3 separate regions of the Homo sapiens genome follow, and regions 1 and 2 are each reported to be linked to region 3. The links are microRNA targets in miRTarBase. Many come from high-throughput screens and were not tested one by one. Region 3 holds a microRNA gene; each other region holds the end of a gene's coding sequence.

Region 1 (4,000 bases), not on the chromosome of region 3:
TTTTATAGCATTTGGTTTTCCTTTATTATAAATAATGCTTAAGTAAAAATCTTTTTATAGAGATACATTTTTGCATGTGAGTATTTCAGTATAATACATTCCTTCATGAGAAACTAACAAACCAAAAACCATGTTATTTTTAATATCACTTGGTATCTTTAAATAGGGGTCTTTCTACAAACTTTTAGTTCCCACTAATGATGTATTGAAATGGTTGCCTCTTCCCACTTCTCTGATGGGTAGATTTTAACATATAATTAATTTATTCTTGGCTGGACAGAAAGATAATCCTAACTATATTTGGAATACACTTTTTTGCATTATGAAAGAGGTAACTTTTCTGTTTAATGGCATGTGCATTTCTGTACCTATTTGGTGGTTTTTCTCTCCTTTTTTTTCTAATGTAACACTTTTCATTATTATCAATCTATAGATTCATTTTCTATATTTATGTAAACATACATAAGTCACATAGATCAACTATGTATCGACCTTTTAAAAGATTTAAAAATTAATCTTAACCTTTCACTTGCTGTACTTCTGCCTTTATACATTTTTTTTTGTTTTCCAGTGAAATTACTATCTTCAAATAAATACTTTCAAGATTTCATGTCATGATTTTGTTCAAATTTCCTGCCCTAGTATTTTAATACTGTTTTCCAAAAATTATCTTTCTCATATGTAAATATCTTTATCAAAACACACATCTTTAATTTAATTTTAATTTTGGTGGTCTCTATTGAATAATTATTTTCCAAATGAATTTAGGATAAACATGTAAATTCTATAAAAGCTCTTCTTGATATTTCCATTCTGATTGCATTGAATTACTAAATAATGTGGTGAAATCAGGTATTTCTACTAAATTGAATGTCTTCTTTAATCAAAGGTAGTTTTATACTATAGATTTCTGTGAAAGCTCCTTTATTGTATTAATAAATTATTCCATACTTGTTATGTTATTTGGGTTGGGGCAGAGACTGTTCATTTATCACCATAACACATGTTCACTGCTGAGTTCACAAAAGGGAAGAGTCCAGAGCGTGCCGCTCAACTATGTCTGAAAGGCAGAGCTCAGGGACTGGAGTTTGAAGAGAATGAATAATAATGCCAGCTAATAGTTATCGAGCACACTTTAAGCACAAGATACCTTTCTAAGGATTTTACATACTAACTCATTCAATCCTTAAAACAAACTTATGAAGTAGGTTCTATCTCTTACTATAACTTATAGATGAGGACAAAGAAAAATAATCTTTTTCAAAGTCACAGAGCAAGCACATGTTGTGTCCTGAATTCAAACCAGCTGGGTGACACCTCTGCTCATGCTCTTAATCTTTGTATTACACACTTAGAACTATTTTTTTTCTTTTACTACTGTGAAAGTACAGACTGCCACTGGATATTGTTTCTGCTTCAGAATTATTTGTTATTATTTATTCTATATTCAATAACATTTGGAAAGAGGTGTAAGACTGTTTCCATTTTTTAGAAAGATGTTGCATGGTAAATAAGAGTTTTTTCTCTGTCATCTAAAATAGCTTTTTTAATGATTTTCCAAACAATATGTGTGATTCTGAAAGCTTTTGAGATAATAGAAGAATGGTGTACATGAGGTCATCCACCGCCCCCAACCTTCTTCATTACAGGGTACTTTTCACACAGTCAGTTTGCTCTGAGATATTTTTTGGGGGGAATACTTTTTATATTTAACAAATACAATTTATTGTGAGATAAGCCAACATATTATTTAAATTTGGGTAATGTAGACAAATGAGGTCAAAGTTTTGTTACTTGCTTATTTGATTTTCCTTAGACGTAGGCATACCCTTCCTCCTCCTTCCCCAACCCTTAAGAAATATTTGAATATGCTTACTCTTATGCAAAGTGGGAAGAGATGTGATTGGAATGCAAATTTTGAGAAGTATCATGTTAATTTCTAGAAAGAGCATATTGTAGTGTAAGAATACAGTAACACTGCCTGCCAATATGTTACAGTAGACTGCAGGATTAGTTGGTTATCTAGCATGCAAAATTCAGAACTCAGGGCTCTAATTTAATTATTCTAAAATCTAATGCTACCTTGGTGAGGTAAGAGAAATCACAATACCTGGTAATGCAAAAATGAGTAAAGATTTTCTACAGCACACACATTTAATTTTCTTAGAGTAAATTATTACTTTGATTTTTGTAATGAGTTCCATTTATTAAATATTTCGGCTATAAAGTACCAGCCTACTTACTGTGTCCCAGGATGAGTCACTGTTCTCCTGATGTTAATATGTCCATGATTGTGCTAATGACAATTACTCAAAAGATAGATACAATCAAGTGGATAGATCTAACATATGTAGTTTAAGTAAAAAGTGAGAATGGGTCTGAAGGATTTACATGGGAGAAATGCCCATAGATCTAAATGGAAAGACATGGGTCATGTCAAGAGGGCGTCATTCTCAAATTGTCCTCTTTTCTTGGAGCCACACAGAATTTTTGTACCTGTGACGAGAACCTCTGTATGATGCAGAATGGGTTTGAGGTATGGCTTACCTGTTTACTTTTGGAAAGTGGGTGATGTCTTTTTTTTTTTTTTCAAACACTTTATTGAAATGAGTAAAGAAATATACAAGTAGGTAGAACTGGGTATAACTTTGGTATAATGTTAAAATTTGACCAAGTATTTTTAGCCTTCCCTTTCCCCATGTCAGGCCCTTCAATATTCCCTAAGGCTTCAGTGCATTTTACGTTAGTTGGCCTTAACTGTGCTCTTCCATTGTGTTGAAATAATCATAACCTTTGCAACCCTGTTTACTCAGAAGATGTTCCTCATTCCACCCTAAGGCTTTCCTGAATCTCCAAACAGAAGCTATTTATGCTCATCTGGCAATAATAATATGTGACCTATATGTCTTTAGGGACTTAATTTCTCATATTATGCTATTTTATATATCTTTTATACTGCCTTTGCAATGAAATGAAACTATATTCCTTCCATATATATAAACATGCATCTTGTATGCAATCAGTACTGAATACATATTTTGTTAAATTAATGGCATACGAAGCTTTTTTATTGTTTCTTGCTTCACAAATGTATATATAGATGTGTCAATAAAACAATGAGACATTTAAACTACTTCCAATTAAATGATATTTACCTTGCAAGATGAGACTGAACTCTGTTTGCTTTGTGGATTCCTTTAATGATTGATTTAAAGTAGAAGTAAAATTTTAAAAGTGAAGAATTATTACTGGATGTTAGTTGTGCAGGGAAGATAATCAGAGTGGTTGAAAATATGGGGAAGGCGGGGGTGGGAGTTGAACCACATAAGACCTATTTTAGCCCAGGTTACTGTTGAGGGACCCAGTTATACCATAAGTTGAATTATGCCAACTTAAAAACTATAAATCACATGATTTAAATTTAAGGCAGGTGTTGGACTTGACCTTTTACTCCAGCACTAAGAAAGTTTAAAACAGTGTTACTTCAGGATGTATCAGGATGGGAGTTAAGGTCTCCAGCATGATTAAAATCAGTGAAATTTAGCAGAAGCTACTGAACTATAGCAAAAGACATGAATCCAACAGACATCTCCTCCTCATCGTCACAGCATAGAACAGTTGAAAATAACAAAGACCTATTTTATCTCAGTGTCACACAGACAAGTGGCTTTACAGAATAGGATAGTTGTTGAGTGGTTGCATCCCAGATAATGGACTTGTATGTCACAGTCGAAGTATTCATCATAGTAGATGCAGGGGTTAGCTGAAAGAAAATAGTATGGTTTTACAACACAGTCTTTTAAAAATCGCATTTGCTGAGGAAAGAGACCATCTTATTAAAGACAAAAAGAGAAATTTTTATTAACAATTGCTAACTAAATTTAATTAGCATAAGCTAACTAAATCTGAATGCAAAACAGGTGATAAGATCATGTATGAAAAGAAAAAGGTAAAATTTTTGTCTTTGTGTAAAACAAGTTTTTATCACAATTTTTTAAGT
Region 2 (4,000 bases), not on the chromosome of region 3:
ACAGGCGGGAGCTACCGTGCCCAGCTTGTTTTTGTTTTGTTTTTTTTTTTTAACTTAATAGATATTTCTAAAAGTGAGAGACAGAAGTCTTTGAAATTTGACCAGGTTCATCCTGAAATGGGTAGAACCGTCCTAAATTTGAACAGCACTGCTTTATGCCAAGACATCAAGCAACCAATTCCGCAGGTTTTCTGTACTTTGTGGGTTTTCTCTGGCCTTCCATCAGCAGGATCGCCCCACTCGCGTGTAAGGACAGAAAACCATGGTTGACTTTTCCCCTTGCAGGCCTGCCCAGGTGACTTTCAGAAGCCTGGCCTCGAGGGGCTGGAGATTCACCAGCATTAGGTGAGAAATGGATCATGGCACCCGTGTGGAGGAACTGGGGAATTCTGAAAAATGCAGCTCTTGGGGCACAGGGGCCCGGGGTCTGGGTGGGCTTCCCCTGTTCCCTGGGGTGGCCAGGCATGTGACCAGGCAGGAAGCAGACTGGGCAATGGGCCTGCCCTGGGCTTTGCAGCCTCATTGCTCTTGGCGTGAGGAGCTGGGGGTCGGGGGGCGAGGTCACACCTTCCTCACACTGAACATGTGCAAATCTGATCATATGTATGGTCCTAGGGAAGGGCGGGGAGGGAAGAGACAAGGGAGGGAAAGAACAAGGGGATTTGTTCTTGTTTCCCACCCACCCACTTTTATGCCCCAGAGTGGAGGGAAAACAGGAATTTACTCTTCTCCCACGTGGTCTCAGATCCTGTGTGTCTCAAACAGAGCAAGCACCTCATGGCAAAGAGGATGATCGTAGAGTTTACATCTGTCCCTCTTTTTTATATAATTAAAAAACCTGAAAGTTGGTTTGCATGACACTGGACATTACTGGATATACTGTGCACATATTACTACACAGGGAATTTACACAGACCCCACATTCTGTCTTACTGGGTGATTCAAGGACTCTTCAAGGGCTTTTTGATTTGACCCAGCTGTGTCATATGCAGTGATTTTAGAACGAAGCCCAGCCTGAGCTCTGTTGCTTTTAGATTTTTCCTCAATCTGAAGAAAAGCGTTTGGACTGTGGTGTTTGAAAACAAGCCTGTGTGTTCTGCAGTGAAGCCGCACACTCACCCCTTTGGTTCTTTTCTAGGCTTTCTTATCTTCACAGGCAGAAATGGCTTAAACGGGAGTTTCTACAATCGACTAAGCTTCCGACACAGCAGAATCCCACGATCCCACAACCCATTTGTTTTTTACGTGAAACAGGCCTCGGGGGAGAGATTTGAGGGGGTTTTATTCTTAAAACGGCACATTTGTAGAGAATGCCCTTTATATATGTTCTAAAGAAAAGTGTACAAATACTCAATGATTAAAGTGTCTCTGAGAAAGTGGCTTCGGACCACACCAGCATCTGGTCCTTTTGCTGTGACCCACCCCATCCCGGAGCTGGTCGGGTCTGGCTGGATGTGCTGCCCAGTGAGTGCCTCGCTCGGTAACTGCTTGGTCCTGAACATTCTCTCGTTTCAGGAACTGATGAGGTTCTCTTCTTTTGACTGATGGAGATTACAAAACTCTTGGATTCCTGGAAAACAAGACGACAGGCATAGAGTGCTAATGGCTTGTCTACCCCTTGACAGCCCTGTCCTGTGCTGGGGAGGGCTGTGTTTTGACAGGGGTGGAATCCTCTGGCTAGTTCCATAAAAAGACCTGTGTCTGTGATGCCCTGAGTCTTTGAAAGTGACCGGAATACCTCACACTACCCATCTTGCTCATAACCAGTGGCTGCGGCCTTCCTCGGACCATCTATAGATGGAGGATTCTGGGAATGCTGTTTCCTTACCCTTGACATCATTCTTCTAGGCAAGTAAAACCCAGCCACAAACTCAGAGACCACAGCTTTAACAAACACTGACACCTCTGCCCTAACTCTGGGGCCTCTGATGGCTGCCACTGGCTGAATGTGGCCTGCACGTGGGTTTGGTCTGGCTCAACAAAGTTTTTATTTTTATTTTTTATTTTTTTGAGACACGGTCTCACGCTGTTGCCCAGGCTGGAGTGCAGTGGCGCGATCTCGCCTTACTGCAGCCTCCGCCTCCCAGGTTCAAGCGATTCTCCTGCCTCAGCCTCCTGAGTAGCTGGGACTACAGGCATGCGCCACCACACCCGGCTAATTTTCATATTTTTAGTAGAGACAGTGTTTCTCCATGTTAGCCAGGCTGGTCTTGAACTCCTGACCAGCCTCAAGTGATCTGCCTGCCTCCTTCACCCAAAGTGCTGGGATTCCAGGTGTGAGCCACTGCACCTGGCCTTTTTTTTTTTTATCAGTTACTTTTAAAAATGAATTACTTTATCCCTTTATTGGGATGTATTTCCTAAGCCATAAATTTCACCCTCACCATGTTTTTTAAACTATGAATTAATTCACAATACTCACACATTGAGAGATTTCTCATGGACTCCTGGCTTCCTCGGCTATGGGGGCCACTCTGTGGTCATCACAGACCCCACCACCCACCTGTCCTTCCACACCCCTGGCTCCTTTATGTTGCTTCCTGCCCCACAGGCATCTGCATTTAGTACTCATGGAAATACTTACTCTGAATTATACTTCTGTAGGCTAACGTGGCTGGGGAATCTGGGGCGTCAATGAAAAAAGACTGGCCTTTGTCACAATTCTTACCTTAAAAAAGAAACAAACGGAAGACAATTCAGTCCAAGAGGAAAACAGAATGGCCACAAGATCTTGGGGCTCTTTCCGTGCTGGTGACAATGGGAAGATCTTGAGCCCGCTTCACTCGTAATGAAGAACAAAGTAGAAAAGACCAGTGGGGTCTCAGGGACCTTCCTTCCAGCAGGGTCCCCAGCCAGCATTTCAGCGTGGCTAAATAATCAGGTGGTGTACAGAAAATGCAGGTTCCAGGGCCCTACAGAGAACTGATTCAGCAGCTTCCACATGGGCCCAGGAGTCTGCATTTTAAGAGATTAGCTTTTGAGTGAAAGGATCATGAATGCACATGGTTAAAAAAAGTACAGAATGCAAAAGGATATGGCATAAAAGGCCAAGTCCGAAAAGGGCTACTAGTGTTCTAGGTGTCTTTCCAGAAAGATTATGCGCATATAAATGTGCACACTTGCATGTGTGCGCACACACATACACACACTCTCATATACCTAAAATACGAATGGGAGCACATGACACACACATTCTGCCTGCTGCTTTGTCTGTGTATAATTTTATCTTCCAGGTCATCTGTGCTGGTGTCTATCAGTCTGCTAGTCTTTCCCCGCCATGTGGCCATTGTTCCAGTCCCCTCCTATGCACACCCAGGTTTCTCTAGGACCATGTTATCCCAGAGCCAGGTGGACAGGACACAAGGGGCTAGGGGTCAATGGGGGTGTTCTCGCCTCCAGTCTGCCCTGCCAGCCCCCAGTCGTGGGTGGACCTGCCATCAGCTTGCTCTGCCCACTCCCCAGGCCTGAGCTGCTGGCGAAACAGGCAAGTGACTGCACTGCCCATGGCCGGTCACCAGCCTCAGGTGAACCCCAGGAGGGGTTCCTACCTAGCACTCATCATTTCCTCAACTTCACTACTGTGTCGCCCTGTGGGACAGGGAAGTCCAAGTCGGGGAAGAAGCCTGTGGGGAGGGGTTGGTGGGAGATGGGGAGCCCATATGGCCCAGTGAGTCAGGAAAATAGGGTCCAGAGGCAGGGAACATAAGGCCAATTCGCACTTGAGCCATAACAGGAAATGTCCTCTCCATAGGACGTATGCCGTAAATGACTTTGTAACTTTACTTCATCCTTTTCGTTTATATAGGGCGTACCTCAAGTAGAGGGTATTTAAACACAAAAACTCTGTAATGGGGCCTTTGAGCCCCTATTCTCAGGCCCGTTCTCCTCCCACACCGTGGAGTTGACTTTCATTTTCAATAAATCCCTTCCTTCCTTCCTTTCTTTGTGCGTTTTGTCCAATTTTTTGTTCCAGACACCAAGAACCTGGACATCCTCCGCC
Region 3 (4,135 bases):
TCGGCCTCCCAAAGTGTTGGGATTATGGACACCAGCCATGGCACCTGGTAATCAGAGACTATTGTTGCCCAGTCCATCTTGGTTGTGTTCATGCCAGGCTGGGGTGGGCTGGGACTGGATTATAATGTATTAATATAAGGTGACACAGAGTGTCTCCTGGGTCTAGCCGTTTTAAGTGCATTTACATCCATCCCCTCTGTACCCACTAAATAAAGGCTTGGAAACTAGAGTGTGCAGCAAGTCCTAAAGCTCTGGGTTTCTAGATCCCTAGTGGGTGCGGTCTCTGGAGGTTGGGGATTGGGGCTGCATGCCTTCTGTCTTATCCTCCAGCATGGTCTTCTCAGGGAGTGACCCTGTGACCTCCAGAATGCTCCCCCTCCCTCTCCAGCTGGAAGCTCCAGGGAGGAGCCTAAGGAAGGAGGGCTCTGCAGTTTCTTCATCTGTAAAATGGGGCTGATAACAGCACTTACTTTCCAGGGTTGTTGTGAGGAATCAGTGAGCTACTACCTTCAAAGAGCTTAGTGCTTGGCACACAATACACTCTTTGCTGTTATTATTACCAAATGGAGCATTCCCAGGAGTTGGGATCTGGTTAGCAGGACTCCCTCCCTGTAAAACCCGGGCTGCAAGAATTACCTCCCACAAGCAACATTCTTTCAACTTTTATAAGAAACTCCAAGAAGTCTATGTGGCTCATTTTAAAGTCACCGGGCATGCGTGCAACCACCCACAGATATTTAATGATTGGTTGGGGGGAGGGCACTGTACTAGGCCCTGGAGGCACAAAGATCCGTAGGACCCGTTTCCTGTCCTAGGGAGGAGACTCAGACAAACCGATATTCACAATTCAGCCGGGCACGTGGCAAGGCCACCCAGAGATTGTGAGGACAGGAGAGCATTTCAGAGCAAGGCAGCTTGGTGTGCCAGGACAGAGGCAGGGGTATTCTGGGTGCTTGGAGAACTCTGGGGTGAATGGAAGGCAGGCTGTATGGGAAAAATGGCCACACACTCCCACTTTAGGGTGTGAGGTTCATTGGGAAAGACAGGCTGGGCTTTGGGGGTGAGAAGCTGGCTATGTATTTACCCAATAGACTGAGAACCGTCTCTGCCAGACCAGGCTGGGGGTGGGGCTGGGGGCGCATTAGACCTTGGACAGAGCCCCTGCTCTCCTGGATGGGTGGACTGTCCAATGGAAGAGACAATGACAAGACAAGCATTCACAGATTCCACGCCCCTCTCACACCCACCTGCTCCCCTCCCCCCACCCTTGCTGCTAGCCCCGAGGTACCCAGGAGCCTGCTGGAGCCTGGGAATCAAGCTCTGGTCCTTGGTCGGGGGAGGGGGCAGGCTCCAGCTCCCGCGTGGGGTGTGGTCTCCAGGGATGGCATCCTCAGCCCAGGGGTGGGGACTGTACCCCCTTCTCCTTTATCCTTCAGCATGGTCTTCTCAGGGGGTGACCCTCTGACTTCCAGACTGTTCCCCCTCACCCTCCAGTGGAAGCCCCTGGGCAGGGGCCTAGGGAGGGGGCTCCAGAGGCCTTTGGTTTCCATGCAGCTGGGAGACAGGGGGTGGGCCGTAAAAGACTCTGGGGTGCCCTGGGTGCTCTTGGAGAGCTCAGCCAAGGCCGGGGCCTGAGTCAGGTCCACGGGAGAGCAGGGCCGGGATGCTGGTGCCTGGCCCAGGAGAAGGGAGGGGGCGATGGGCAAAGGGGTCAGGCCGAGGGAGCAGGCGGGGCATCGGGAGTTGAGGGTGCCGAGTGGGGGTGGGAGGACGAGGGGTCCGGCCGGTGCAGAGGGGGAGGCGGCCCCCGGGGAGGGGCACGCTATGTCTTTAAGAGCTGCCTGAGCGCAGGTTGCAGCTGCCTGGCCAGCCCGAGAGACAGCGGAGATTCATTACCCGCCGACACAATGACCATTGATGGCCCCGTGGCGTTATTCAAATCCAGTACCAATTGCAGCCGAGCCCCTTTCTCCGCGCCAGGCCCGTATTGTTGGAGCGGCCCACTAAAAGCCCGCCCCGGCCCCGAGCCGCCAGAGGCGCCTGCTCGGGTTCAGCCTTGCGCCTCGGCAGCCCGCCGGCTCCCAGTCCGGCTCCACGGGCGCTGCAGGTGACCCGGCGGCGCATTCCAGCACTCCCCGCCGCCCGGGCCACCGCCGCCACCGCCACCGCAGGCGCCCCGGCCGCGACTCAGCCACAGGAAAGCGGAGAGCGCCCGAGCCGGTGCGTGCGCGGGGCTGGGCGGGGGCGGGGGACCCACGAATCCAGCAGCCCGGACCCCGGGCTCGGAAACGCGACCCGGCCTGGGGCTCCTGCCTTCCGGATTCCCGGAGATCCCAGGCTGGGGGCAGGGAGAGGGGAGTCGGGGTTCCCCAGGCCAGACAGAGGAGATTCCCCCTCGACCTGGGGCGGCGCTGAGACCCAACGCGGGCCACTCTGCGGACTCCGGGCCGCGATCGAAGGAGCCACGCCAGGGGCGATGGGGATCCCCGCACAGGGTCAGGATCCGCGTGCTTGCTAGTCCACCTTACCGCCGGATGGGCAGCCGCTGCTGAGCGCCTGCTAGGTGGTCCGACGCGCAGCTCCGAGCTGTCCTGGACTGGCGCTTTTTAGGAGCGAAGGGGAACCCCGCAGGAGACCAGGGCCCTGAACTCAGGGGCTTCGCCACTGATTGTCCAAACGCAATTCTTGTACGAGTCTGCGGCCAACCGAGAATTGTGGCTGGACATCTGTGGCTGAGCTCCGGGCGCAACAGGGGCGGGGGCCCCAGGGACAGGGCTCAGCGCGGGCGAGACCTCTCGGGGCGGCGGCTGGCTGGCCCCAGCGCGAGGATCGCGGTCCCGGCCCGCGCGCACAGAGACGCCGGTCCCTGCCACCAGCGCCGCCATCCGCATCCTCGTCCTTCTTCCTTCTCTGCGGGTGACCAGTCCCGGCCGGCAGGGTCCTTCAGTCGATCGCGTCGTTTTTCCTCCTTTCAAATTTCGGCCGGAACGAAGCCGGCACGCAGCGGCGGGGCCGAATGTGGTCCGCCCTCAGCCCAAGCCGCATGAAGTCGGGGGTGAAAGAAGAGGCCGGCCGAATGCGCCCGCTAACTCGTTTCGCAGTTGTTCTAACTTATCACCCCAATACTCCCTACCTAAACAAAACAAATCCTCAACCAACCCCTAAATCCCAAACAAACCAACCCCTCCCGCAAGCCCCTCCGGACGGACCGATGGGCTGAGCCTCCTCCAGCCGCTGCCAGGGTCCGACGGGCAAGCGTCACCAACGATGCGCTCCAGCCCGGCAATCTCCTCGGCTTTGGAAATAGAATTTGGAAAAACGAATCCTTTTCATTAAAGAAAAATCTTCGGAGATAGCGGGGTTTTATTTGTTTATTTCCTCAAAAGCAGGGATCAGGAGTTGCTTGGGAGAGGGGCAGTTGGGAGCTGCTGGGGGCTGAGCCCAGGTCACCTGTCCCCTGACCCCTTTCCAGTCTAGGGCTAAAAATGACCTGAAATCGTCTGGTGTGCCTTGGACATGGCCAATTTCAACCACAGTGCTTGCACCCCCATGTGCCAAGAAACCCGGTTTTCCCAGCACCTCCTCCTGCCCTACTCTTCAGTATTAATTGGGGTGTGCTGGGAGAAGGGATATTCCACATCACACCTCCCACTCTCTGCAGCCAGGGAAACGGATCCTAGCGCCCAGTTTCCAGGACCTGAAATCTAGTGTGTTCCAATCAGGTGCACTGATGGGGCCGCTCCTGCAGCTCAGGGGGCTGCAGATGGGGAGGGACCTCCAGGTTACAAGAATCGGACAGGCTGACCTTCTAGAAGTGCAGCTGTAGGGAGCTGTTCCAAGTCTCTTGCTCTGTTCCCTAACATGGAGACCCTGACCTCAGGAACTAGTGAGGGTTGGTCACACAGCCTTTCTGGACAGCACTCAGACCCCAACACTGGCCTTAATTTGCACCCAGACCAGCTCCTCCCCATAGTCCCAACACGGCTGCTCCCACTCCACACAAGCCCAGAGGGTCTCTACCTGCAGTAGTCCTGGAGAAAAGCCCACCAGCCAGCAGGTCATCTACCCCCAAAAGAATGATGTGCACACCCCATCCCCCAACACTGCTGGGACAACCTTTTGCCACTTTCATCTC

Evidence for each region. Region 3 holds the annotated microRNA hsa-miR-219b-5p (AGAUGUCCAGCCACAAUUCUCG, at 2,707-2,728, opposite strand). A microRNA usually pairs through its seed, bases 2 to 8, with sites in the 3' UTR of a target mRNA and lowers its output. Matches are read on the target gene's strand: a 7mer-m8 pairs with bases 2 to 8, a 7mer-A1 pairs with bases 2 to 7 and ends in A, and an 8mer does both.
Region 1: miRTarBase lists CRISP1 as a target of hsa-miR-219b-5p. The part of its 3' UTR that is shown has no 7-base or 8-base seed match.
Region 2: the mRNA of TVP23A is a reported target of hsa-miR-219b-5p. Seed matches in the 3' UTR shown: 7mer-A1 at 1,833-1,839.

The regions. Positions count from the first base shown.
Region 1 is chr6:49,831,681-49,835,680 of GRCh38, forward strand. It overlaps CRISP1 (cysteine rich secretory protein 1), which reads right to left. Exons shown (of 8, transcript NM_001131.3): 8 at 2,577-3,763. The coding sequence ends at 3,636. Among named protein-coding and RNA genes, the nearest start is that of CRISP1, 33 kb to the right of the region's middle.
Region 2 is chr16:10,766,617-10,770,616 of GRCh38, reverse strand. It overlaps TVP23A (trans-golgi network vesicle protein 23 homolog A), which reads left to right. Exons shown (of 8, transcript NM_001079512.4): 7 at 286-345; 8 at 1,516-3,942. The coding sequence ends at 345. It overlaps NUBP1 (NUBP iron-sulfur cluster assembly factor 1, cytosolic), which reads right to left. Exons shown (of 11, transcript NM_002484.4): 10 at 2,585-2,668; 11 at 1,266-1,570. The coding sequence ends at 1,512. Among named protein-coding and RNA genes, the nearest start is that of NUBP1, 25 kb to the right of the region's middle.
Region 3 is chr9:128,391,227-128,395,361 of GRCh38, reverse strand. It overlaps MIR219B (microRNA 219b), which reads right to left and starts at 2,741; the gene lies at 2,654-2,741. URM1 (ubiquitin related modifier 1) reads right to left here. Exons shown (of 5, transcript NM_030914.4): 5 at 3,346-4,135. It overlaps MIR219A2HG (MIR219A2 host gene), which reads left to right and starts at 1,861. Exons shown (of 1, transcript NR_186569.1): 1 at 1,861-3,351. It overlaps MIR219A2 (microRNA 219a-2), which reads left to right and starts at 2,648; the gene lies at 2,648-2,744. RefSeq lists an enhancer at 1,623-2,328.